2 linked regions of the Homo sapiens genome follow. The protein of the gene in region 2 purifies or fractionates together with the protein of the main gene of each other region. This does not show direct contact. Each region holds a gene or a part of one and is shown on either strand. Other genes may lie near its edges.

The links.
Region 1: the proteins of MAP2 (region 2) and PRKAR2B purify together in Homo sapiens (affinity purification with mass spectrometry; 4 studies listed by BioGRID and IntAct, with this or other methods). This does not show direct contact.

Annotation. Positions count from the first base shown.
Region 1 is NC_000007.14:107,143,051-107,155,317, reverse strand, and holds part of PRKAR2B (cAMP-dependent protein kinase type II-beta regulatory subunit), read right to left. Parts: intron 9,011-12,267; coding exon 8,857-9,010; intron 4,397-8,856; coding exon 4,295-4,396; intron 2,142-4,294; coding exon 2,067-2,141; intron 1-2,066. UniProt on the Homo sapiens protein: Regulatory subunit of the cAMP-dependent protein kinases involved in cAMP signaling in cells. Type II regulatory chains mediate membrane association by binding to anchoring proteins, including the MAP2 kinase.
Region 2 is NC_000002.12:209,416,897-209,430,044, forward strand, and holds the start of MAP2 (microtubule-associated protein 2), read left to right. Parts: upstream 1-7,150; 5' UTR 7,151-7,380; intron 7,381-13,148. UniProt on the Homo sapiens protein: The exact function of MAP2 is unknown but MAPs may stabilize the microtubules against depolymerization. They also seem to have a stiffening effect on microtubules.

The sequences.
Region 1 (12,267 bases), on a different chromosome or scaffold from region 2:
GCCTCCCAAAGTGCTGGGATTACAGGCGTGAGCCACTGTGCCTGGCCTTGAAATAATATATTCTCTACCACTGTATTTCTGCTAAAAAACCAAGAAAATGTGGCAACACTGGGGTAAGAATTTCACCCAAATTTCAGCCTAGATAACAGCATACATAGTTGGAAATGGCAACACTGCTGTGTATGCCAGCAGCGTCCCCTTAGTTGGCAGAAACATGTCTGCGGATCCTGTGCTCCTGAGGAAGTGCCGAGACATGCACCCTGCGTCATCCTAACATCGCAAGCATTGGTGTGGTGACCCAAGATAAGCCATCAACTTGCAAAGAGCAGAAAGCATCCAGATGGAGCCGGAAGCAGCAGATGTGGGCCTTGACATTTTCACTACAGTCAACTGAGGACCAAACTCTGACATGCTAGCCTACTGACATTCCATTTCAAGGCTTTGGAAGGACTTCTAAAAGAAAAGTGTTGCTCTACCCATATACCTGTTCTTTCTTGCTTTTGTTTCTTAATGAACTCTGCCTTGATCTCCAATGATGCAGTCTGAATTAAACAATACAATATGGAAGATAATAATACAGACACTGACTTCTCTAAGCCTCTCAAAGTGATTCTGGAGAAACTTAAAATATTTCAAAACTCCTTAATACAAATTCAAGAAGTTTAGCATCTGATTCTATCACAAAAATAAATGTTGAATTTAGATTTTTAGAATATAGGGTGTATATGTATATTTATAAATGCTTAAAAGACAACAAATATGTAAGAATATCCTTAATAAACCCTAAGTATAGCATATCTCCTTTCCCTTATTCTTGTATCAGGTTTTCATAAAAGCTTCATATTAAGTTTTCGAGTGTTCTGAATCATAATAGGTCTATTAACTGCTGAGTAATTTTTAACTATTTTTAAAGCACGCTCTAAGTGTATGTAAAACTGGTGAAAACTGAATATGGTCTGTGAATTATGCCAATGTCATTTTCCTAGTTTTGATATTGTTATTAACAGTGATGCAAAACGCATTAGGAGAAACTGGGTGAAGAGTACACGGGACCTCTCAAAACTATTTTTGCAACTTCCTGTGAATCTATAATTATTTCAAAATAAAACCTTAAAAAATCATTTAAAACATGCTCTTTGCTTTGTTATTTACTAGTTTATACAGTAGAACTTTAACCTTGCTTGACTCCATTTCTTCCCAATCCCTGACTGCTCTAACACACACATACACACACACACACTCAGCAATGGGAGAGGGGTGTTGATCGAAAGATTTACTTATGTATTTGTCTTCTAAAACAATTCTTTTTCTCAGTCTCAAAGACCTTGAATCTTGTTTCCCATATAAAGGAAAAGACTGCATTTCAGATAAAGAGCACAAAACAGTATAAGGCTGTGATACAAAAATTACAGAATCTATTAAAAATCCATTTTAATCATTTGCTTAGTGCTTCAAAAATATAACTAGGAAACAAGGTACTATCATCTGCATGCTTTACCTGTGAACTTCAACAGTCTTCACAAATTCTACTTTTGGTAGCCCTACTCCAACCCAGGTATCTAATATTATTGGTTCCAGCTGGGATCTTAGAAAAGTATTAGGGATTAAATAACATGTTGACCCACATGTAGTCTTGGAAGCCAAAACAGTATATGTTGCAGTGTGTTCCTTTCTTGGTGAATTTTATCAAGGAGCAGCCTCAGGAATTTTCATCATGAACTGATCATGCAAAACTCTATAGAATTTTCCAGTGTACTTTCTGGGTCCTCATTAATGTCATGGAACATTCACCTGTTTTTTCCTCTTATAAATGACTACAATGATGCAGAAAACCATTTGATGGTTTAATACACCTTCATTAGGAGTTAATTACATAAACAAAAATATTCAATAGAGTAATGACTATAAATGAAACCATTTTTAACAGGTCATTTGGTAGAAGTAATATTTATTTAACCCATCACTGCATACTAATTTTAGAAATATGAAAAGTTTATCAAGATCTACCACTACAGGAACCTTTTGGAATATAACCCTAAACTGAATTACATTTCAAAATATCATACCTGAGCAATGATTTGTTCTCCATCGTTGTATACTTTGGTGCCTATCACATCTACTACTTTCAGGCGTTCAGAAAACTACAAAGAAAGAAAAACAATATTAAATAGAAACAAATTAACTGGGTAAGCTTATCTAGTTCGGGAGTAAAAAACTGGTAGCCTATAGGCCAAATAAATCGAGCAGTGTGTAGGTTGTATATGTGTTTGTTGTATTAATTACCAGCCAGCATTTTAAAATAATTTTTCATAAAAATTCAATCTCCAGCTTCTCTTGAAAAATCAGCATCACATAGCCCATATTTCCACATGGCAACAATAAAACTATGGTGGGATAGCAGCTGTTTCTTTAATGAAATACATGTTCTCCAATCTGCCAAAGTCCCTTCCTGGCTTGGTTTTCTTCTCTGTGTTACCTGCCTAGCTCTGAAGGCACCAGATTTCCAATCCCTGACCTACTCTTATTTAAAGAAATATGCTGCTGGAAAAGATCAGCTGTCTACCACGCACTGTGTGATGTGGACAAAATTTTTACCAGATGTAAGCTGATAATCCAACAGAGACATTCAAAAGGAGAAGCACTGCTGTTTTGACACTTGCCATTTTATAAGATGTTGTGGGTACATATATATGCCTGTCTTTAATTACTCTCAAAATACTTCAAATATGACAGTGAAATAGAAAAGCATTTAATTTAATGATGAAGTATGGAAAATGAAGCTGAATTTTTAGGGTAACAACAACCTACTCTCTCTCATAAGTCTCTACCTTCAAAGATAAAAACCTAAGAGCTGGTCTCATTGAGAAGACCTCTGGGCTGAGAAATGAAGGAGCCCTGCAGCTGTGTAGGAAGACATTCCAGACAGACGGCAAGTACAAAGACCCCGAAGTGGGTGTGGGACAGGTGTGTTTGAGGAGTGGCAAGAAGCTGATGTGTCAACAGAGAGATGATGAGTGTGGAGCAGTAGGAAATGAGGTTGGGGAAAATGGGTGGGGGAATGGGACAGTCTGTGCAGAGCCTTAGAGGCCATGTGAGGAGGAGCTTAAATAGAGCAGTGCCACAACCAGGGATTTTAAAAGATGACTCTGCAATTAGCCAGGCAAGAGGTGATGGTGGTTCATATGAGTCAGTGCTAACTCGAAGGTTTTTGGCCTGAGACACTGGAAGGATATGTTGCCATCTGCGGGGAAAGAGAAAAGGAGTAGATTTGGGACATACTAGGTTTGAGATGTCTATTAGACATCTGAGAGGAAATCTTACATTTGCAGTTGGATAAGTAAGTCTGACCTTCAAGGGAGGGGCCTTGCCCAGTGATATCAATTTTAAGAAGCATCAATATATGGACAGTACAGGTGGTCCCTGACTTACAGTGGCTTGATTAATGATTTTTCAACCTTACAGTTGTTTGAAAGCGATAGAAACTATACTTCTAATTTTGAGTTTCGATCTTCTCCCAGGCTAGCGATATGCAGTACAACGCCAGGCAGAGAGCCACAACGCCCAGCCAGCCTCACCACAATGAGGTGAACAACCCATGCTCTCCAGTGCACTGTGCTGCCAGGTGACTGTTCCCAGCTGTAGGCTGATGTGAGTGTCCTAAGCATGTTTCAGGTAGGCTAGGCTGAGCTCGAATGTTCCATAGTTTAGGTGTATTAAATACATTTTCTATTTATGATATTTTCAACTCACAATGGGTTTATTCGTAAGGTAACCCCATAGTAAGTCAAGGGACATCTGTATTTAAGGCCATGGGATTCGACATGTTCACCAAGTGAATAAGTGTATCCTGAAAAGAGAAGAGGCCAAGGACAGAGGCCTGGAATGCCAGTTTTAAGAGGAGAAGAAAAGAGGAATAAACAGCAAAGATGACTGAGAGGAAGAGGCCAGAGAGGACATTCTATATCTAGAGAACGCCTCACTGTAAAGTTACAACTAGTGGCTCTTGTCTACATCTATGTGATTATATTAAGTCTGCTATCAGATAAAGACCACATATAAATTTGCTATAGATGCTGGGTAGGAATGTATTACTTTCAAATAACAAAACAAATGAAATTATAGATAGCAGAAGAAACAATGAGTTATAAAAATTAGCACTACCATTTAATCTTTTCAAATAAAAACATGGATAGATTTTTTTTTATTCAAAGAAATTTTTCTATAGAACTAAATATTCCTAGCAAAACAGAAACTTTTAAAGCAAAATAAAATAAAAGCATAAACATATACTTACCTCCAAAGATTTAAGGAATGGCAGTGACTCAATAAAGCTTTCATACATTTTTCTCTTTTTGGCATTGTTTTTCACAATTATTCTCCTGAAGGTTACCCTGTCCTACAGGCAGAACAGTTAAAGGGTAAATTTTATGGGGGTAAAGCTATACAAATAGTTTTATTTTATTCCCTACAAGAAACAATGATTGAAGATTCTGAAATAAAAGATTAACATCATTATACTTTTAATGCAACTCATTTCATATTTTTATTTCGTCAAGCACAAAATATAATACAGAACCACATAAAATACTGTTTTCTTTTTTTTTTTTTTTTTTTTTTTTAAAGAAAGCATCTGTTGACTTTTTATACATAACAGAAATCTGACCAATATGTTGGGTTCTGCCCACAAGGAGGCGCTGTCACAGCATTTTTAAATATGTATACTAGCACTCTGTTCTTTTACTCTGTTATGTACTCTACGTTCTTTTTCATATCCACATTATGTCAAAATTTTCTTGTCAAAAATGTGGAGGGATGCCCAAAGAAATTATAAATGCTTAAAGTGATGGCTACTCCATTTACCCTGATGTGATCATTATATATTGTATGCTGTTATCGAAATAGCTTATGTACCCTGTAAATATATACACATAATATGTACTCATAAAAAAAATTTTTATTTAATGTGAAGGCACAGAGAAACTACAACTATGTTTTTGAGTAAGATCTAATTCCAGTGTTTACCATGTTCACAGTCTAAAATGTTCCTGTTTATACTATCATGCCCTCAAAGATACAGAACTCGGTTGAAGAACTAGTAAAAATTTTAAGGATACAGCTCAAAACATTATTTTCCTAAAAATTTTATTTTAAATAATTTCTCATAAAATATTTTAATTCTTTAATAAAAGCCTCAATAATTATGTTAGATTGGCATTCATTAATAAACAATTATACCATTTTAATAAAGTAAAAATTGGGATATATTATTTAATAAATTACTATGCCAATATTTTAATTTTTTTTTACTTTTATTTTTAATTTTTGTGGGTACATAGTAGGTGTATATTTATGGGGTACATGAGATGTTCTGATACAGGCATGCAACATGAAATATGCACATCATAGAGAATGGGGTATCTGCCCCCTCAAGCATCTATCCTTTGAGTTACAAAAAATCCAATTACATTTATTTTAAAATATACAATTTTATTATTGACTATGGTCACCCTATTGTGCTACCAAATACTAGGTCTTATTCATTCTTTCTTATGCCAACATAATAAGGCTGAATTTAAATGAACTAGTGCAATGGAGAAAAATGCCAGTATAGATGAAAGTCTCTAGGTGTGATGGACTGCAACTGAATGTTTCTATCACTCTAAAATCCCTCTGTTGAAATCCTAATCACCCAGGATAGTATTAGGTGGTGGAGCCTTTGGAAGATGGTTAGGTCATGAGGCTGGAGCCCTCATGAATGGGATTAATGTCCTTATAAAAGAGATCCCAATGAGCTCCCTTGCCCCTTCCACCATGTGAGAACACAAGTAGAAGACGCTGTCTGTTAAACAGGAAAACAAGCCCTCACCAGACACCGAATCTTCTGGTGCCTTGATCTTGGACTTCTCAGCGTCCAGACCATGAGAAATAAATGTATGCTGCTTAAGCCACCCATTCTATAACAGTCTGTCATAGCACCCCAAAAGGACTAAGACACTAGGAAATTAAACATCTTGTTTCCCAATTTGGTATTGGCTGTAATTTGGACTTGTTTTACTCCTAATACTTTTTTTAAAAGAAAATTTTACAAGATAATTAGCACAAATATTGAAATTATTTCCAAGCCTGGCTCTGCATCAGAATAAGCTATAGTATTAAAAAAGATTTCTGAGACACCAGACCTTAATGACTCAAGATCTCTGCATGTAGGGCTCAATAATTCATAAATGCTCCCAAAGTGATTCTGATATGTAATCAGGTTTGGAAATCAGGTATAACACCATTGTATGGACAGCGGTTATTGCAAAACAGAGAAGACTCAAAATAGCTTAATGATTTAGAAACTAATCATAATCAGTTATATCTCTCAGAAAGAATTTTCCATTAGTAACCTACCTCTTCACACCCACTGTGACATATAAAGTCCAGAATTTCAAATACTTTCATCCTGAAGCCATTTCAAAAATCACCTTTCCAAATCATCAGTATAGTCACGTAGATCATGTTAGCCCTAAGGCTAATAGTGACCAAATATTATTTACAGAGTGAGACTATTCTGCAATGGACTTTTCTCTTGGGCTTTTTTTGCTTATCTTTACACACCTGTATTTATAAGGCAGACCTCCAGTCTGTTGACCTTAAAAGAAAAATTTATTTTCTACTCGACTCTCCCTGAGAAGGAGTTATTATAATTAGTCAAGTCACCCTTAAAAAGTAGGCTTGAAATACTAAGTAATTATGTTAATTATTCTAACTTTTTTAGAAAGCTATTATATGTCAGGAGGATTATCACAAACTGCCCATTTTTATAAAATTTAATAACATGTATAGACTACTAAAAAGCTCTGAAAATGCTTAATCCTATCTTAGGAACTTAAGTAGTACGTGCACTAGGAAATTCTGGGTCTTTTATACCCCATTAAAGTTTCTACAAGGGCTAAAAACTATCAGTATTCAAAGAGGCCAACCTATAAAACAGTTGATCTTATTCTGAAGATGTGCAAGGAGGCAGTTTCCTCACTGTGTGACAATCTGACAATCTGAATCTGAACGGCAACCCCATTGGAATGACTACATTTGAAAAGTAAACCTTCCTGAATAAAACAGGTCATGGCAGATGCTAGATTTATCCCACCACTTTAATTACAGGCAGACAAAGACTTCTGTGGGTGAAGGACTGTCCTGGTTTGAAGTTTTTTCTTTGCTGGCTTTGGGTATTCAAATCACTGACAGTTCTTTCCTTTTCCTGAGACAATTCAGCTTTTCCTCTAAACCTTAAAAAAGTGACTCATCACATTTTTAAATAAGTATATAATAACTGGTTCCAATTAAAAGAAATGTAAAATGTCTTGTCTCTTTGATCAAGAGATATTTTTTATCAGCTGAATTGACTTCAGAGTCAAATGCTGAACTGTGACTAAATAATGTGTGACTTCCACAATGCTATATACAGTAGTCCTTGGAAATGAGACTTTTAACAGACTTCATATTTACTTCAACCTCTTCTCTTTCCACAAAAGGATTTGAGAGAAATAACCCAATAAATGCATGTCAAAACTAGTGGGTGGGCTATTTTCAACAATTTTAAAAGAAAATACATATACTGTAAACATTTCCCTAAATCGATGCTGTTTAAGGTTTGGCCTGACATCAGGCAGTACTGCCATCTCCTGGGAGCTGATGAGAAATGCAAAAATCACGGGCCTCACCCCAGAACCACTGAATCAGAATCTGCATTTTAACTGGATTCCCAGGTGATTTGTAAGCATATTAAAGTTTGAGAATCACTACCTTAAATACAATCCTCCAGAAGGAGCTTTAGTAGTGCCTAATAATTTGCATCCTATCATATGTGAAAATATTGCCCGAATGTATCTTTAAACCAGCTTTTAAGTCTTGCGGGAATACCACATTAAGAAATGTATTTAAAAGTACTAATGCTCAGGTCCCAGTGCTGAAGATTCTGATCAATTTGCCCATGGTGAGGTCTAGGTAAGAGGATTTTTTTTGAGACAGAGTCTCGCTCTGTCGCCCAGGCTGGAGTGCAGTGGTGCAATCTCAGCTTCACTGCAAGCTCCGCCTCCCGGGTTCATGCCATTCTCCTGCCTCAGCCTCCTGAGTAGCTGGGACTACAGGCACCCACGACCGTGCCCGGCTAATTTTTTGTATTTTTAGTAGAGACGGGGTTTCACCGTGGTCTCGATCTCCTGACCTCGTGGCTAGGTAAGAGGATTTTAAAAAAATACTCCAGGTAATTCTGATGTGGGGCACATGAGCACAGCCACCAAGCATTTTTTCCCTACACAACTGCTTTTAAATGCAGAGTAGTTACCAATCAATTTATAGCACCAAGAGCATCCTTTTATACTGGTTTCTCAAACTCCGAATTTCTGATGCAGTAGGTCAGAATCAGTGGGTGGGGCCCCAGAATGGGCATTTCTAAAAAGTTCCCAAGTGATACAGCTGCCAGTGTTCAGGGGACCACACTCTGGGAGCCACAACTTTATCAGATTATAATACTTACCTCAGAAAGCTATCTGAGAAAAAGTACTTAAGGCTGTGTTTGTATGGCTGGTTATTTTCTAAGAGTGGGTAAGACAGGAGCATTCTGAATCTGAGTGTCTTTCCTGGGCCACCAGGTCCCAAGCTCCTGACTGGACTGGAGGAGTGGGGGCAATGACATCAGGATCTGACTTAGTGAAGTCTTAGTGCCCTACAGTTCAGCATTCAGTGGCTGCTTAATAAATTACCTGATGACTGATGATCTTTAAATTAAAATACTACATGCGGCAATTTGTAACACCGTCATAGCAATTGCTACAAATCATAACATTCAGGTCAAATAAGTATTTTACTCACCAAACCCCACAGAGCACCAGGAGAGGTAGCAGTGATTGTAGCTGCTCTGGGTGTATTGTACATTAAGGCCAGTTCGCCGAAACTCCCACGATTATCATAGTTACCAACACATCTTCCAACACCATCACATTTCACATAAATATCAAATGTGCCTCTGTTGGACATATGTAGATTGGAGGTTAATTCAAATAAAATATCATTAAAATAAAACATTATTTCAGAAAAGAGCCCTGTGAAATAAAAATCTTATTTCCAGCCTGTTATCCCCTCCGATGACAATAAAGGGGAATCAATCTGTGCCATCTGTTCCAGACCATGTGCCTGCTGGGAAAAATGGGACTAAACAATAAAAATTTGGAATAAGGAATGATAAAACTATAACTAAAGACTACAACCAAATAGTATATGCATAAAAAACCATCTGGAGAGGCCGGGTCTCACACCTGTAATCACAGCACTTTGGGAGGCTGAGGCGGGTGGATCACCTGAGGTTAGGAGTTTGAGACCAGCCTGGCCAACATGGTGAAACCCTGTCTCTATTAAAAATACAAAATATTAGCCGGGTGTGATGGCGGGATCCCATAATCTCAGCTACTCGGGAGGCTGAGGCAGGAGAATCACTTGAACCTGGGAGACGGAGGTTGCAGTGAGCCGAGATTGTGCCACTGCACTCCAGCCTGGGTGACAAGAGCAAAACTCCAACTCAAAAAAAAAAAAAAAAAAAAAAATCATCTGAAGAGGCTGGGTGTGGTGGCTTACTTACATCTGTAATTCCAGCAATTTGGAAGTCCAAGGTAAGAGGATCACTTGAGCCTAGGAGTTCAAGACCAGCCTGGGCAACATAGCAAGATCCCATCTCTATAAAAAATTAACCTTAAAAAAAGAAAGAAAATCATCTGAAGAAACATTTATCAAATCACTGACTGTAGTTATCTAAAAGCATAAGAATAGTGAGGGATTCTAGGCATATTCGCTATCTAATTTAAGAGTTTCTGTTTGTAACATGAACATATTATTACTTTTGTGATCAGAAGAAAATAACTTTTTAAAAAGAATCTAGCTATAGCAATTTGGTTAGCCACTACTCTACAAAACTTACTAGGGTCCTTTATAATCTATAGCAGACGTTGGCAAACTATAGCCCACAAACTGGCTATCTGCTTTTGTAAATAAAGTTTCACTGCAATATAAACACTCTTGTTTGTTTATGTGTTATCTATGGCTGGTTTTATGCTACAACTGCAGAGTTGAGTAGTTACAACAGAGAACATATTGGCCTGCAAAGCCAAAAATATTTACTCTCTGGCCCTTTACTTTAGATCAACCCCCATTCTAAAGTTAAAAAGTAGAAATTCAGACTAGATATCTAACTCTGGTCTTTTTATAGTTTTTTGGTGCTTATCTTTTAACTGGGGTTCTTTTTCTAGGCAAATAAGGTTCAGTTTGCATGTCACTGCACTTCCTATTACCCAGACCCTATATTCACGTAAACTGCATTCTTTGTGTGGATGACTGACTTTCCGCATACTGTATTTTATCAGAGAACATGCTTTCAAGGCTTGCACCTGTGAGGGCAGATAGAAAAAATTCTTTGGCTTTATTCTGTTGACTAAACCCTAACACAGACAAAGAGTGGGGACGTGCTGCTAAAAAAAAAAAAAAAAAAAAAAAAAAAGTGGCTTTTAACATTAGAAAATTATTATGGGCCAGGCCTGGTACCTCATGCCTGTAATTCCAATGTTTTGGGAGGCCAAGGTGGGAGGATTTGAATCCAGGAGTTCAAGACCAGCCTGGGCAACATAGCAAGACTCTGTCTCTACAAAAAACCAAAAAATTAGTCAAGTATGGTGGCACATGCCTGTACTCCTAGCTACTTGGAAGGCTGAGGCAAGAGGATCGCTTGGGCCCAGGAGTTCAAGGCTGCAGTGAGCTGTGACTGCACCACTGCACTCGAGCCTAGGCAAGAAAGTGAGACACTCTCCCTGCCCCTCCAAAAAAGAAAGAAAAGGATTATTAATAATAAAGAAGCAATAACAGCAGAAACATGATAGACAGAAGAAAATAATTGGCTTTCATGGCCAGGCACAGTGGTTCACGCCTGTAATCCCAGAACTTTAGGAGGCCAAGGTGGGCAGATCACAAGGTCAGGAGTTTGAGACCAGCCTGGCCAACATGGTGAAACCCCGTCTCTACTAAAAATACAAAAAAATTAGCCAGGCGTGGTGGCAGTCACCTGTAATCCCAGCTACTCGGGAGGTTGAGGAAGAAGAATCACCTGAACCCAGGAGGACAGTGGGTGCAGTGAGCTGAGATTGCGCCACTGCACTCCAGCCTGGGCAACAAGAGCAAGACTCCGCCTCAAAAATAAATAAATAAATAAATAAATAAATAAATAAATAAATAAATAAGAAAAGAATTGGTTTTCAATGTCATTCACGGATAGAATGACTGTTTCAAGGGAAACTACTAGAATTTGTCCCATGGATAATCATTTTTCAAGTACAGGGTTAGTTTCCCTCATCCAAAATTCTTGGGACCAGAAGTGTTATAGATTTTAGATATTTTCAGATTTTAGAATATTTGCATATATAGAATGAGGTATCTTGGGAATGAGACCCAAGTCTAAATACAAAATCAGTTTATGTTTCATATATACCTTATACACACAGCCTCAATATAATTTTATTTAATATTTTGAGTAATTTTGTACATGAAACCAAATTTGTGTACATTGAACCACCAGAAAGCAAAGGTGTCATTATCTCAACCACCCATGTGGACAATCTGTGGTTGTTCAGCATTACCATCATTCCTGACTCTGAATTTATATGCTACCAATAAGCCATCATTTTTTACTTGTATTCACACATAAGTACTTAACAGTAAAAAATAAGACATACCATTAACACAGTAAAAACTAATGTGTTTGGGGCAACTAAGCAGCATAGTAGCATCCCCAGAATACCTGCACCAGCTGCCAAACAAGAGCAACCACAAACAATGGCAGGCTTGCAGTCTCCACCTACAATGCTATATTCTGATTAAAGTTACTGTACCTCGTACACTAACCCCTTCGGGGATGCTGAATAAGCTGTTGTGTGCCTGCATTTTGACTGTAAACCATCACATGAGGTCAGGTGTGGAATTTCCACTTGTGCCATCATGTTGATGCTCAAAATGCTTTGGAGTTTGGAGAATTTCAGATTTTCAGACTAGCAATGCTGTACAGATTAAACTCTTCGATTTACACTATTTATACTTTTGCGCTGAAACTGTTCTCTACACTCGGCTACTTTGAATAGGGTAAAACAAAGCCAAATGTGCCGAGGAGAAGTAAAATGAGCTATCAGTCCAGTTGAAATCACATCAGTCTAAAATCTGTTAAAATACCGCAGGCTAGGCCAGGCACAC
Region 2 (13,148 bases):
AAAATTCAAACACTGACAACAGCAAATGCTCTTGAGGACATGAAACAAAAGGAATTTTAATTCATCACCAGAGGAAAGGTGCAGCCACTTTGGAAGACAGTTTGGCAGTTTCTTACAAAGCTAAACATAATCTACCCTACAATCCAGAAATTGTGCTTCAGGTATTTACCCAAATGGGTTGAAAACTTATGTCAGCACAAAAACCTGAACATGAATGTTTACAGCAACTTTGTGCTTGCCAAAATTAGAAGCAAATAAAATGTACTTCAATAGCTGAATGGATAAACAAACTATGGGACATTTATACAATGGAATAACATTTAGTGATAAAATGAGCTATCAAGCCATGAAAGGGTATGAGGAATCTTAAATATTTACTGTTAAATGAAAGAAGAAAAGCTATATACCACATAATTTCAACTATATAACATTTGTGGGGTATTGAAAGACTGTAGGGAGGAATAAATGGAGTACAGTGTATTTTTTAAGGCAGTGAAAATATCTTGTATAATACCACAATGATGGGCACATGACACTATATATCTGGCAATACCCACAAAACTGTACAATACCAAGAGTGAACCATAATATAAATTGTGAGCTTTAATTAATAATAATGCCTCAATATTGGTTCCTCAATTTTAACAAAGGTACGTCACCCATGCAAGATGCAAATAGTAGGAGAAACCATGGGCAGGGGAAAGGAAATGCATGGAAACTCTCTGTACTTTCTGTTCTGTTTTTCTTTAAATGTAAAACTGCTTTAAGAAATAAAGCTTATTAATAATGTATATATTTTTCAAAAACTTCAAAAAATCTAATTAAATAGAGATCTATACCATGTTCATTGATTGGAAGACTCAATATTTTTAAGACAGCAATTCTGCCAAAATTGATCTACAGACCTGAGAAAATTCCAAAGAAAACATAATTTTTACTTAAATTGACAAGTTGACATCAATATTTGTATGGAAATGCAAAAGACTACAAGAGCCAAAAGAAATTTGTAAAAGAAGAATAAGATTGTATTACTTGCCATGTCTGATTATAAGATTTACCATAAAGCTAGAGTAATCAAAATAATGTGAAATTGTCATAAGAATCAATGACATGGCAGAGTTCAGGAACAGACCTATATATATATGACCAATTGATTTCTGACAAAGATGTTATGGTCATTCAATGAAGAAAGGATGGTCTTTTCACAAAATAATTCTGGAACAACTGATATCTATACGGAAAAAAATAATCAGTAATACCTTATATCATATCTACTAATTTGAAATAGATCATAGAAATTAAAACTATCAAATTTCTAGAAGAGAACAGAAAAAAAGTAGCTCTGGAGTAAATGAAAGATTTCTTAGATATGACCAAAAAAAACACAAAGCATAAAAAGAAAATTTGATTGAGGAAATAGGGCTTTATCAAAATTAAAGGAGTTCGCACTTCCAAAAGATGACATTTAGAAAATGAAATGCAAACAAAAAATTGGAGGAAAATATTATCAAAATATATTCCTTATATATTCCTTGTATATTGGAAGATACACAACCCAATTAAAAATTAGCAAAATATTAGAACAGACACTTCACAACACAAAATCTGATGCAAGAATAACCAACAAGAACACAGAGACATATTGGCATCATTGGTCATCAAGGAAATTTGGTTCTTCTCAATAATTTTAGTTTTTCTACTGAAATTCTCTATTTTTTTCACTTATATTTCCTTTACTTAATTGAGTATATTTATAGTAGCTGATTTTAACACTTTTCTATTAATTCCAACATCTGGGTCATCTAAAAATTAATTTCTGTTGATTGTCTTTTTTTCTTGAAACTGGGCCACATTTTCCTGGTTCTTTGAATGTTGAATAGCTTTCGGTGGTATCCTGGATGTTAAGTTGTGAAGACTCTGGATTTCATTATATCACTCCAGTGTTGAAGTTTTTGTTTTACTACTCATTTAATTTGGTTAGATTCACATTGCAACATTTGTCACTCGGGTAGCAACTCAAACCTCAGCTCAGTATTTGGTTATTGTTTTTGTTTGTTTTAATCTTTAACTGGGAAGCATTGAATCTGTTCCATATACACATGATTCAGGGATAAAGTGGAGATTTGTGCGTAGATTATACCTAGAAATTTGGACTATTCCAGTGTCTCTTCTTTTCAGTCTTCTATTTTCACTTTCCATCTCAGGACATTGTCCCAAACTCTATACTCTATTTCAGGAAAACTGTAATTTTTCTATGACTGTTTGCCCCTGGCAATACTGTGTGCAATCTTCTCTCAAGTTAAAAGGCATTGAATGTGCCATTCCTTCTTCCAAGCGTTGATTCCCCTTTAAAATATGCCTGTTTTGTTTACATTCCAGTGCTTTCTGGTTTTGGTTGTTTCACCCCTACAGGAGATGTTATCTGGGGGATGGTAAGGTCTAGTAAAAGTCTACTCAGCAGTACTGAAAACTTATACTTCAATAGTTTCTTAAAATGTTAAGCATTGTAATCCCAGCACTTTGGGAGGCCGAGGCGGGTGGATCATGAGGTCAGGAGATAGAGACCATCCTGGCTAACAAGGTGAAACCCCGTCTCTACTAAAAATACAAAAAATTAGCCGGGCGCGGTGGCGGGCGCCTGTAGTCCCAGCTACTCGGGAGGCTGAGGCAGGAGAATGGCGTGAACCCGGGAAGCGGAGCTTGCAGTGAGCCGAGATTGAGCCACTGCAGTCCGCAGTCCGGCCTGGGCGACAGAGCGAGACTCCGTCTCAAAAAAAAAAAAAAAAAAAATGTCAAGCATATATCTACCATTCGACCCAGAAATTTCGCTCTTGGGTATATGACTAAAAGAAACAACAACATATCCACAAAAAATCTTATATAAAAGTTCATAACAACCTTATTACTAACAAGCAGAAACTGAAAATAACCCCAAATGTCCACTAATTAGAAAATGGATATACAAAATATGGTATATCCATACAATAAAATACTACTGAACAATAAAAAGGAATAAACTGCAGATAACTTACAAAATAAAGAATACATCTCAAAAGTAATATGTGTGCAAAAGAAGCCAGATGTAGAATAATATATATTGTCTGAATCCTTTTATAGGAATTCCAAGAATATGCAAAGTGAAGCCACAGAGAAACATAATCAAAAGTGTAGTTACCTCTATGGGTTGGGGCTGAAGGTGTAGATTGAACATTTCTGATCTGTGCTTTTAACTGAATGTAAATTATACCTCAACAAAATTTTTGAACAGAATGATACATTTATGGTCCAGAAGAAGTCAATGGTAATTTCACCACCTGTTCAATGAACTAGGCATAGAATTGGAAATGGGAGACCATACTACAAAGCTCATTTTTAAATTTTAAAGCCATTGCAATGGTCAAAACTTGTGAAACATGATAGAAATTTTGATAGATGTGCCTCTAGTCATCCATAGAGAAAAGGTCAAGAAATTAAAAACAAAACACAAAAAGCCCATTTCACACATAGAAGGTAAAAGACTTATGTGTGTCTGCTCTTCAGTGTCATACCTGCATCTTGCATCCACATCTTTTCTATGATGGGCTGCACATTGTATCAGCATTGTTTGTGTATGTATGAACCTTGCTCATTGTTTCTCTAGGGGCCACTTAATTAATGTTCATCAACTTAATAAGCAAATCCTCAGCTGAGCTATAATTTCTCATAGCTTTATAAAACTAAAGTGACCTTAGGTGGCATGTGGTTGAGTCTCCTCATTTGCTAATAAAAATATTGAGGTTCAAAATGGTAGAGAGATGTACCCAAGGTCACACAAGCAGGGAACAGCAAATATGGGCCCTCAGATCTGACTTGAAGTCTGGTGCTCTTAACACTATGCAGTACAACCTCCTCAAAGGCTCACCTACTCCTTGACTCTCTGGGGAGAAGGTTTCATTACTTCCTATATACCAGTAGACCTTTCTCTAATCAGTAGAAATACATTTATTCTGATGGTTTTCTGACTGAGAAACTATCAGAAGTCCTGTCCCTGAGAAAAGGGTATGGTTGTTTATGTACGTAATCCTCCGGGCCAAATAAATACAAATCAAGAATTTAGCCTGAAGACAAGACAAGTAATTGTGGAAATCAATATTGGCAGGCTCTTTCTATCTGTGGTTTACTTTTTGGAGTCCAGCACTGTATTAGTCAAGGCTTCTTCAGTTGAAAATGACAGGAATCCAACTACAGCAAGCTTAGAAAAGAAACAAAAATCTATTGGCTTGAAAAATGGCATTTCTACCTTGAGACGTAGCAGGATCCATGGAGTCTTTCAAGTGTTCTTTCTCCATCTCTCAGCATTGCTTTTCTGCATGGAAGGAAATACAGTCACTGACAACTCTATACCTATACCATCCGATTCACTATTGTTCATATGACACATCTCATGGAAAAAAGCCTGATTGGAAATATTTGGGACATATGACCACCCTGTATCAATCACTATACATTAGGAGAACAGGTTCTACTATAGAGTTAGCCAGGGTCACATGTCCACCTCTGAGAAAGAGAAGAGAGGCACACATTTTACTAGCATATGGGGAATCATATGAAAAGGATCATTACTCTAAGGAAGGGATGCTTTGCTGAGGGAAAAAAAAAAGTTCACTTCAACACAAAGATCCCTCCTTAAACCAGAAGCCTAAACATATGGAGTCCCCTCCTAAAGTTGTTTGACATCCCAGGGCACTGACTCCTGCAAACTGTATTTCTTAGGCTGCTTTGTCAACTGACTTTCTTCTAGGTTCACCCAATGACAGGGTTTTGAAATACAGGTTAAAGGAGGGCCACAATATTTCTTTTCACTCTCAGCTTTTGGAGGACCCTCCAGCATTATCTGTCTCCCAGTAAGCATCTCCACTGTGGTCTCAGTTCCTTTAATGTAGCTTGTGCTCCTCATTCCTGGTAAAGCCTCCTCTCTAGCACTCCCCAGCCTGAGAGTGGTAGTACTTTCCTGCTAGTAACTATCATCGTGTTGCCTCATCATCCCCTAGTTGGCTTTTTAGTCATTTGAATCCTTTGTAATTTGTTCCCCATATTAAATTCTCTCTATTGAATTACAACATATAGATGCTATTTTTCTGAAAGAACTCTAAGATGTGTGTCGAGAGGAGGCAATCTCCCATATAAGGACCAGGTTCCCCAAAGAGAAAAGCCATTAGAGTTTGGCTGCCTCAGCTAATCTTAAAGTGGAGGAAAAAACAAACAAACAAACAAACAAACAAAAACAAAAAGTGCTGAGGAACACTGTACTTTAAACTATCAGAGAAATAATGTCTTTTTTATTGCTGTTTTTTAGAGACAGGGTCTCACTCTGTCACCCAGGCTGGAGTGCAGTGGTGTAATCATAACTCACTGCACCCTCAAACTTCTGGCTTCAAGCGATACTCCCTCCTGAGCTGCTGGGATTACAGGTGTGAGCCACCGCTCCTGGCCCTGGAAAATTACTCTCATTGAGCACCTGCGCCTGCATGCCTGGTCATGAATGTCAGCTGCTAACACTCTGGTAGCATGCCTACTCCTTCCTCCCATCCACATACTGTCTATGATTTCCTAGTCTCCTAAGACCTCCTTCTCAGTAAGGCCATCTTCCGAGGAGGAGCATCAACTCCTCCAACCTCCCAGCTCCTGGGTGTGCCTTGATACTTCCAAACTCACTGCAAGCGTCACTGGCACATGGTATGAAGCAGAGCGGGGGAGGCAGGACACAGAGCACTGGGTGTGACTGGGGAGGGCAGGCTTTCACAGCTTCCTCTGTGATGGTTTCTAATCCTTGCAGGCTCCCACCATTGGGTCTCTTTCCATCTGAAAATGGAGGAAATTAGACCAGCTGCCTAAAACATCAACTCTAATGTTCTAGGTTCTAAGATTCTGTGGTTAATTTAAGTGACAGAACCACATTATGGCTGCTGTTTCATCAGCACTGTGAAGACTGTACAAGCCACACCTCAGTATGTTGGCTGACCTTAAAAACACCTTGTCAGTACTTGATATAGACACTCGAAGTAATTCTAAGTTGCATCTTACTTTTCTTACTTACAATAAAATGCTGCTCTCTGATTATGAAGATTCATACTCCTTAGTACGAATGGTAAAGAATCATTTGTTTTCTCAGGTGGTCATTTCACTTTCAAAAGCATTTAAGAGGCAATTTTTTTAAGGGTGATATTTCAAGGTCAACACTTTCCGTGCTTTCTAATTCATTGTATTTGTATCATTCTTCAAAGATCCTTCATATTCATTATCTTTTTAAGCATAAGAGAATTGGGCTGTCATTTTTAGTTCTCATATGACACATGAATACACTGAGAGTTAGATTAAGTGAACTGTCTCTAGAGCATACGTCTGGCTATCTAGAATGTAATAACTATAAAGGGAGGGGATCTTTCTTATTAGGGTTGTGGGAAAGGTCTGTCACTGATGTTTCTAATGCTTAGAAGAGTGCCTGACACATAGTAGGTGTCAATAAACATTCGTTGACTCAATAAATGAATGAATCTAATTCGTGACAGAGCTGGGTCTAGAATTCTCTACTCCCTCAGCCATTGCTCCTTTAGTGCTGACAAGAGTTGTTCTATGTTCTCAAGCGCCCCACATTCCTTTGTCTTTTCTGGATGCACCTGTGGTTGGGTTTGTGAGGCGAGGCCAGTGAGCTTTCCTGGTGAGGTGCCACTGGCAACCCCGCCTCATAGCGACACAGGGGAGGGAAGCAGGGGGTCTGCGGAGGTTGCTCCCGAGAGACTAAAGCTGTTGCCCCCGATTTTCCAAGGACGCCAGTGAGGAAGGCCCGCCTGTCCCGCCGCCCGGGCACTGGCCTCACTTTGTCGCGGGAGGGGACCAGGGCTCTGGAGAAGGCCCGGGCCAGCGGCTGGGCGGGGCTCTCCGAGGCTCCCACCTCGCGGTCCCCGCCTGGCGGCCGGCGGCTGCGGCAGAAGGCGAAGCGGTCGTGCTCCCCCTCCCGGACACTGCGGCGGTGGCAGCGCCAGCCCCGCCGCGGCCGCCCACGGGCTCGCGGAGTCTGGCGGGACCTGCGCGGGGCGGGACCTGCGCGGGGCGGGGAGGAGGGGCCGAGGCGGAGCTGCTGCGCTGGGAGCCGGCTGGGGGCGCCGCTCTCAGTCTGGGGCGGGCGCTCGGGCTGCGCGGGCTCTGGGCAGCAGCAGCAGCAGCAGCAGCATCCTCTCTTCCTTTACTTCCCTTCCGCTTCTTTCTCTTCCTTCTCCTTCTTTTTCCCCCCCCTCCCCTTCTTCCCCTAACCCTTCTACCCCTCTCCTTTTTCTCCGGAGGGCGCTAAGTCCGTGAGCGGTGGCAGTCGCGACCGCGGGTGCATCCAGTTTCTGCGCCCAGGTAAGAGACCGTCCCCACCTCTGGCTCTATGTAGGGCGCCTCTCCTTTTGCCTCGGTCTCTGAGTAGAAAGAGATAGGAATGGGGAGGGGTTGTGTCTCGTCCTCTGGGACTCGCAGCAGGCAGTCTGGTAGTTGGTCGAGTGGCCAGCCGTGCACCTGGCGGAAGATTCGGGCCTGTCCTCTCCAGGTGTCACTGCGGAGCAGGGGGCCGGACGCTACTGGTACCTGAGCCCTGGCTTCGTAGAAGAGCGAGTGAGCTTGTTAGGTACCACTTTGAAACAACTGAAAACTTACGCCAGGTTAGAATACGTGTATCGAAAGCCAGTATTACCTGCGCTGTGGAAAGAAGGGGAGTGGATTCTACAAAGATAGTGGAAAATAGGAAATCGAGGTAGGGGATTTTTTTGTTCATCCAGCTGCAGAGAACTGCACACTGGGAAGTGAGTGAGTGAGGGAAGCCTTGTCCATTTCAAATCATGTTTCTCTGTAATTCCTTCAGAAACAGCTGGGAGAGGAGGACTGATATTTATAATTGTAGGAAAATGAAAAATAAATGCCTGGTGGTGTTGGAGGGCGGGGCACGAAGAAATGAGTCTGGTTAGGCTTCCACACAGTCGTTTTTCTTTTTAAACGTTGGGGGTGGACCTCTGAATCTACAGTGCATCTATTCTTTTCTTCCTTTTCTTTTTAAAAGGCTTTTTTGGTGGGGAGAGGAGGACTGCAGTGCTGGCTGCCTGCCTTCCCCCACCTCGTCTTTTGTTTAAGGATGGAAATTTCAAGAAAGAGTGTGTGGGGGGCTAGGAGTGGGGAGCTGTATATTTGGGTGTGTATAGGGGGAGGGGTATGGATGGAGTCAGAAAAAAAATCCTTGAAAACTGGAAATTAATGTTATTCTGCCTGGCATCCGGACTTCAGGATTTTTGTCAGAAAATAAAAAGCTTTCATTAGCAACAAGCCCGTTTGTGACAATTGCTGTGTGCCATCTGTCGTAAGCTCTTAGCACAATGCTTCCAGGACATAGACGCTTTAAAATTGAGTCCGGTGTAAAGGGTTTTTGTTTAAATGCCTAAACACACAAGTATGCACACAAATGTATAATACACTATATACATGTTACAAAAGGAAATAGGTACTTAAGAGACTGATTTTTTAAAATTGTATTTGAGGGTTTGGAAATTATGTTGTGAATAAAATCTGTAGTGCAAAACAAAAAAATATTGTTGGGTGGTATATAATTTTGGGTGTGAGGCAAAGGGATTGATGACTGTTGGTAAGGAACTAATTTAAATGTTAAAGGTATAATTTATTTTAAAATGATCAGTCTAGAAAAGGAAATGATTGCAAACTGAAATTGAGGTTTGCAGCCACAGTGAGGCGATGGAGAACAAAGCCTTCTATGTGAGCCACATTATGCAAAATGTCCCATGCATGAGCTGCAGGTACCAGCCCAGTTCAAAAGCATAGTTCTTTCACTATGTCATTTCACTGTGGACAATTATGATTTTTTTTGGCAGTCAAATAGATTGAATAAATAGAAGCCCTTTAGAATGCTTTTAATTTTATGCCCAGGGAAAAGATTACAGCCTTCCATCAGAATATAACACAAAGCAGCCCTTTAACCGGGCAATAGGTGTATTTTGGTAGAAATCCTTGTGAATTTGCAAATCATGGATGTTCCAAAAGCCCCAGCCCCATGCACACAAAGAACCCTTCCTTCAAGAAAAAAGGCATTTTTCTCATTCAGTAAGGATTATTATATTTGTGTGTGTATGTTTATGTTGATTTCCTGGTAATTTCATCTGATTATCATAGGTGTACATCTGCATTCATGATTTGTATATTATCAGAGCCATTGTGGCTTTAGGATCAGTGGTACATGCTGTTTATCTGTGGTTTATTTAATTTTAATTTTTCATATTTTACAGTTTGCTACAATATTATTTAATGTCCAAAGTTTTCTTTTTTAAAACCATAAGTAGAAAATTGCTTAACACACATCTGAAGATCTAAGTAATTTAAAAATAGAGCTACCTTTTATAAAATAATATTTTAGTTATATTAATTTTTATTTTATTTATCTCCTCTCTTATTTTTTTCCCTTTTCTAATCAAATAACCTGTTTCTTTATGGCTGCTTTAGTCTTCTATACTGCCATAGGAGGGCCAGTGTTTTCAAGAATTTTGAATTTAGGATTGTTCATTCTCTGCAGCACCTCTCAGGATGACTTGTTTACAGCACCTTCTCAGGGAGGAGACAGGGAAAGAATGTGCTGAAAGAGCATGACCCAGTGAAACTGGCACAGCCATTACCTCATCCTAGTAGGTACTTCAGATTCATTGAGAGAGCAGGCATCCTCTCAGTGGAAACCAAACACCAGGAGCACACCCATCTCAGGGCAAAAGCCTTTCTCTTCCCATAGCAGCCTTTACTAATGTCATTCCACTGAGGTTAAAGGGATATTTTCTCTTTTATGTATTCCTTTTCAGGGATCTTGAACTTGGTTAGAAATATGTAGCCAGAAATGAAACTTGGCACAGAATCCTCTAAGCCTGAAGGAATAATTTCATTCCTTTACCCCTTTTGGTTTAAACCAGTTCGCAAATTTTCTAAACATCAGAAGGGAAAAGGAAGAAAAATGTTGGTGTATTTTTGTGTATTTTCTTATCACACACACATATTTTGTATTGAATTTTACTAGCAGTTAGACAACAGACTGGACATGCTATTAACAAATGTAGTTGCACTGTTGGCATTTTAAAAAATCATTATTACATTTGCTTATAGGACAATAGGTGCATCCTTCAGTGATTCATTGATGTCCTTTTGAGACTGACCATATGAAACTGACATGGGGATTTTAGTATTCAAGTTGGTAACTCTGATTATTGAATCCTTTCAATACTTAATTTCCTCTTAACAGATTAAGATAAAGAATCTGAAATAATAGTTACAGTAGAAGATAGCACCACCCCCAGATCAATACTATCCTCCTTAATGCTAAAAGTAGTCACTTTAGGTAAGTCATTAGTAAATGCATGAACCTGAAGATAACAGTTTTGAAACAATCTCAAATTTTTTTGTCTCTGTTATAGATTAGTTAAAGATGCTAATAAACTCTTTGAGTCATATCTGATTCTCTCAGATATATCAAGTGTTTTTGCTACTTTAATTATCTCTTTACTATTGCCATTACCTTTATCTACTCAATCTAGACCTTTTCATGTAAGGACTGTATTTTGATCATTTCACCATATTTTCCCTCCCTTCACATCATTCTTTTTAATTCGACATTTGGATGTTAGACTTACTGTTCTCTAGCTATTTTGGTTTCAGTAATGTTACTCTCTTGATACAAATTTGGCCTTTATTTTTCATTAAGGAGAGCACTTATTACCATTTATGTATTTATTTATTCATTATGAGAAACAACTTTTGATATTCTCAGTTTTCAATTGCAGAAAATGATTCTAGGCACCAAAAGCAGTTAAAAGTCTGCAAATTAATATGTAGTACACAAAAGGCCAAAGTCAAGGGAGACAGTCTGTATGAAGGTTTGGGTGGGTGGGTAGGTGGGTGGGCGTAGAGGAAGATGTGGAATGAAAGCAAATTCTCAGCTATTAAAAGCTGTCCATGTAGGGTAGAGATGAGCCTTTTTGTCTAAGAGGGTGAAGAAGGAATAAATGTTTTGTTTTTCTGTTTCAACATATTTTGTCCCCATCCCTCCCCTGTCATGTCTTTGAACTAAGGCCATGGTGCTTCCTTATAAAAATTATACAGTATGTTTATTGGAAGGAGTTTTACAGTGAATTAGGTGAATTCAGAATTTTAAAATGATGTGAACACAATTAGATGAATTTTTATGAAAAACACTTTGAATCTAATCTTTGATCTTTCCTGTTCAAGACATAAGCTTTCCTTTGAATGGTAGTACTTTAACTGTAATACATTTTACTTAAACATTTCAGTAAAATTCTATGGAAAGTTAGACAAAATAAAGAGCTCAGGATCCTCTTTCAGTCTACTGTTAAGTTTATATTGTGGAAGTTGGGGAAAGTTTTAGACAGTTTGTTTTCCGTTAAAACACACACTAGAGGGGGCAAATTTCTTTTTTTTTTTTTTTGCTTTTTGTTATGTTAATGAGCAAATAATTTACTTTTAAGATCACATACCTTGACTTTTTTCTTTCCTTTTTTGTCTTCTTTCCATTCTCCTCTTTCCCTTTTCTTTTCTTCTTTACTTAGATTGCTCCTTTCTTTCAGTTTGTATTGGCAAAATAAACATTGGTCTTTAGAAAATGAAATTATAGCCTGATATTCTTATTGAAATTTATTTTTCATTATATTTATATTTCTCATTTAACATGAAGTTTTATGCTAACCTCTCCTCCTTCTCAAGGCTCCATCCCTATCTTGGTCCTTTCTTTGAACTTGGCTTTTATATCCCCTAGGCTTCAACAGTTTTTTCCTTGTATACCAATCTTTCATAACGCTTTGTACCTCAAAAAGGCCTTTAAAAACCAGAAGAAAAGTTACTACCCTATTTCTCCCGATTAGTTTGTATCCAAGTTTATTCAGGTTCCCTTAGGTTATAGGTAATTGCTCGCCTCAATGTGTCCTCATTAGCCTTCTTTGAATTACTTTATTTTATTTTATTTATTTATTTATTTATTTATTTATTTATTTATTTATTTATTTTGAGACGGAGTCTCGCTCTTTCGCCCAGGCCGGAGTACAGTGGCGCCATCTCGGCTCACTGCAAGCTCCGCCCCCCGGGTTCACGCCATTCTCCTGCCTCAGCCTCCCGAGTAGCTGGGACTACAGGCGCCCGCCACCGCTCCCGGCTAATTTTTTGTATTTTTAGTAGAGACAGGGTTTCACCTTGTTAGCCAGGATGATCTCGATCTCCTGACCTCGTGATCCGCCCGCCTCAGCCTCCCAAAGTGCTGGGATTACAGTCATGAGCCACCGTGCCCGGCAATTACTTTAAAGACATTTTCAGACAAAAGTAATACATGTATACAACGAATTTTTTTAAATAAAAAATTTGGCTAGCCAACTGACTTTTTATTATTTTGTTCATCAGACACTATAAAACATGGTTCAACTAGTTTTTTTTTTTTAACAACTAGTAAAGTTACTATGTGTCAGGCAGTCCATTGTCTTTATGTTAGTTAACTAGTTCCACTAATGTGTACCTATTAAGTGAAGTATGAACTACTCTATGAGCAATCAGTAAATGTTGAACTAAATTAATTTAATTTTAAGTAAAATATTCCTAATTACATTTCTCTGTATAGCATCATCATTAGCCATCTTAATCTACCTCAAAAATGACCATAAAATACAGTGCTTGAATATCATGAGATATTTCATCGCTTAACTGTCTAGGTCCTTTACAGTTAAAGCAAACTCACAAGTAAATATACAAACTGACTCTATTTGAGACAAAACCATCATTTCAATATGAACCCTTTACATTTATTTAAGTAGTAATGGATTTTAGGTGGCTACTACCTTTGCATTACAACAATTTAAAAGTACAACATTGTGTTGTTAATGCATGGTGCTGAAATTACATAATGAATTGGCATGAGAAAGTGTTCATCAATTTTAAAATGAATAATATGGTATCATTTTGATTGGTATTAAGGCAATTAAATAATGCTCGGCTTTGACATTTTACTATTTTATTTGGGTATTGTACCTCTCAAATTGGTAATTTTCTCTTCCCTTAAGAGTCTACCTTTTTGAGCAAAATAATGTATTAAG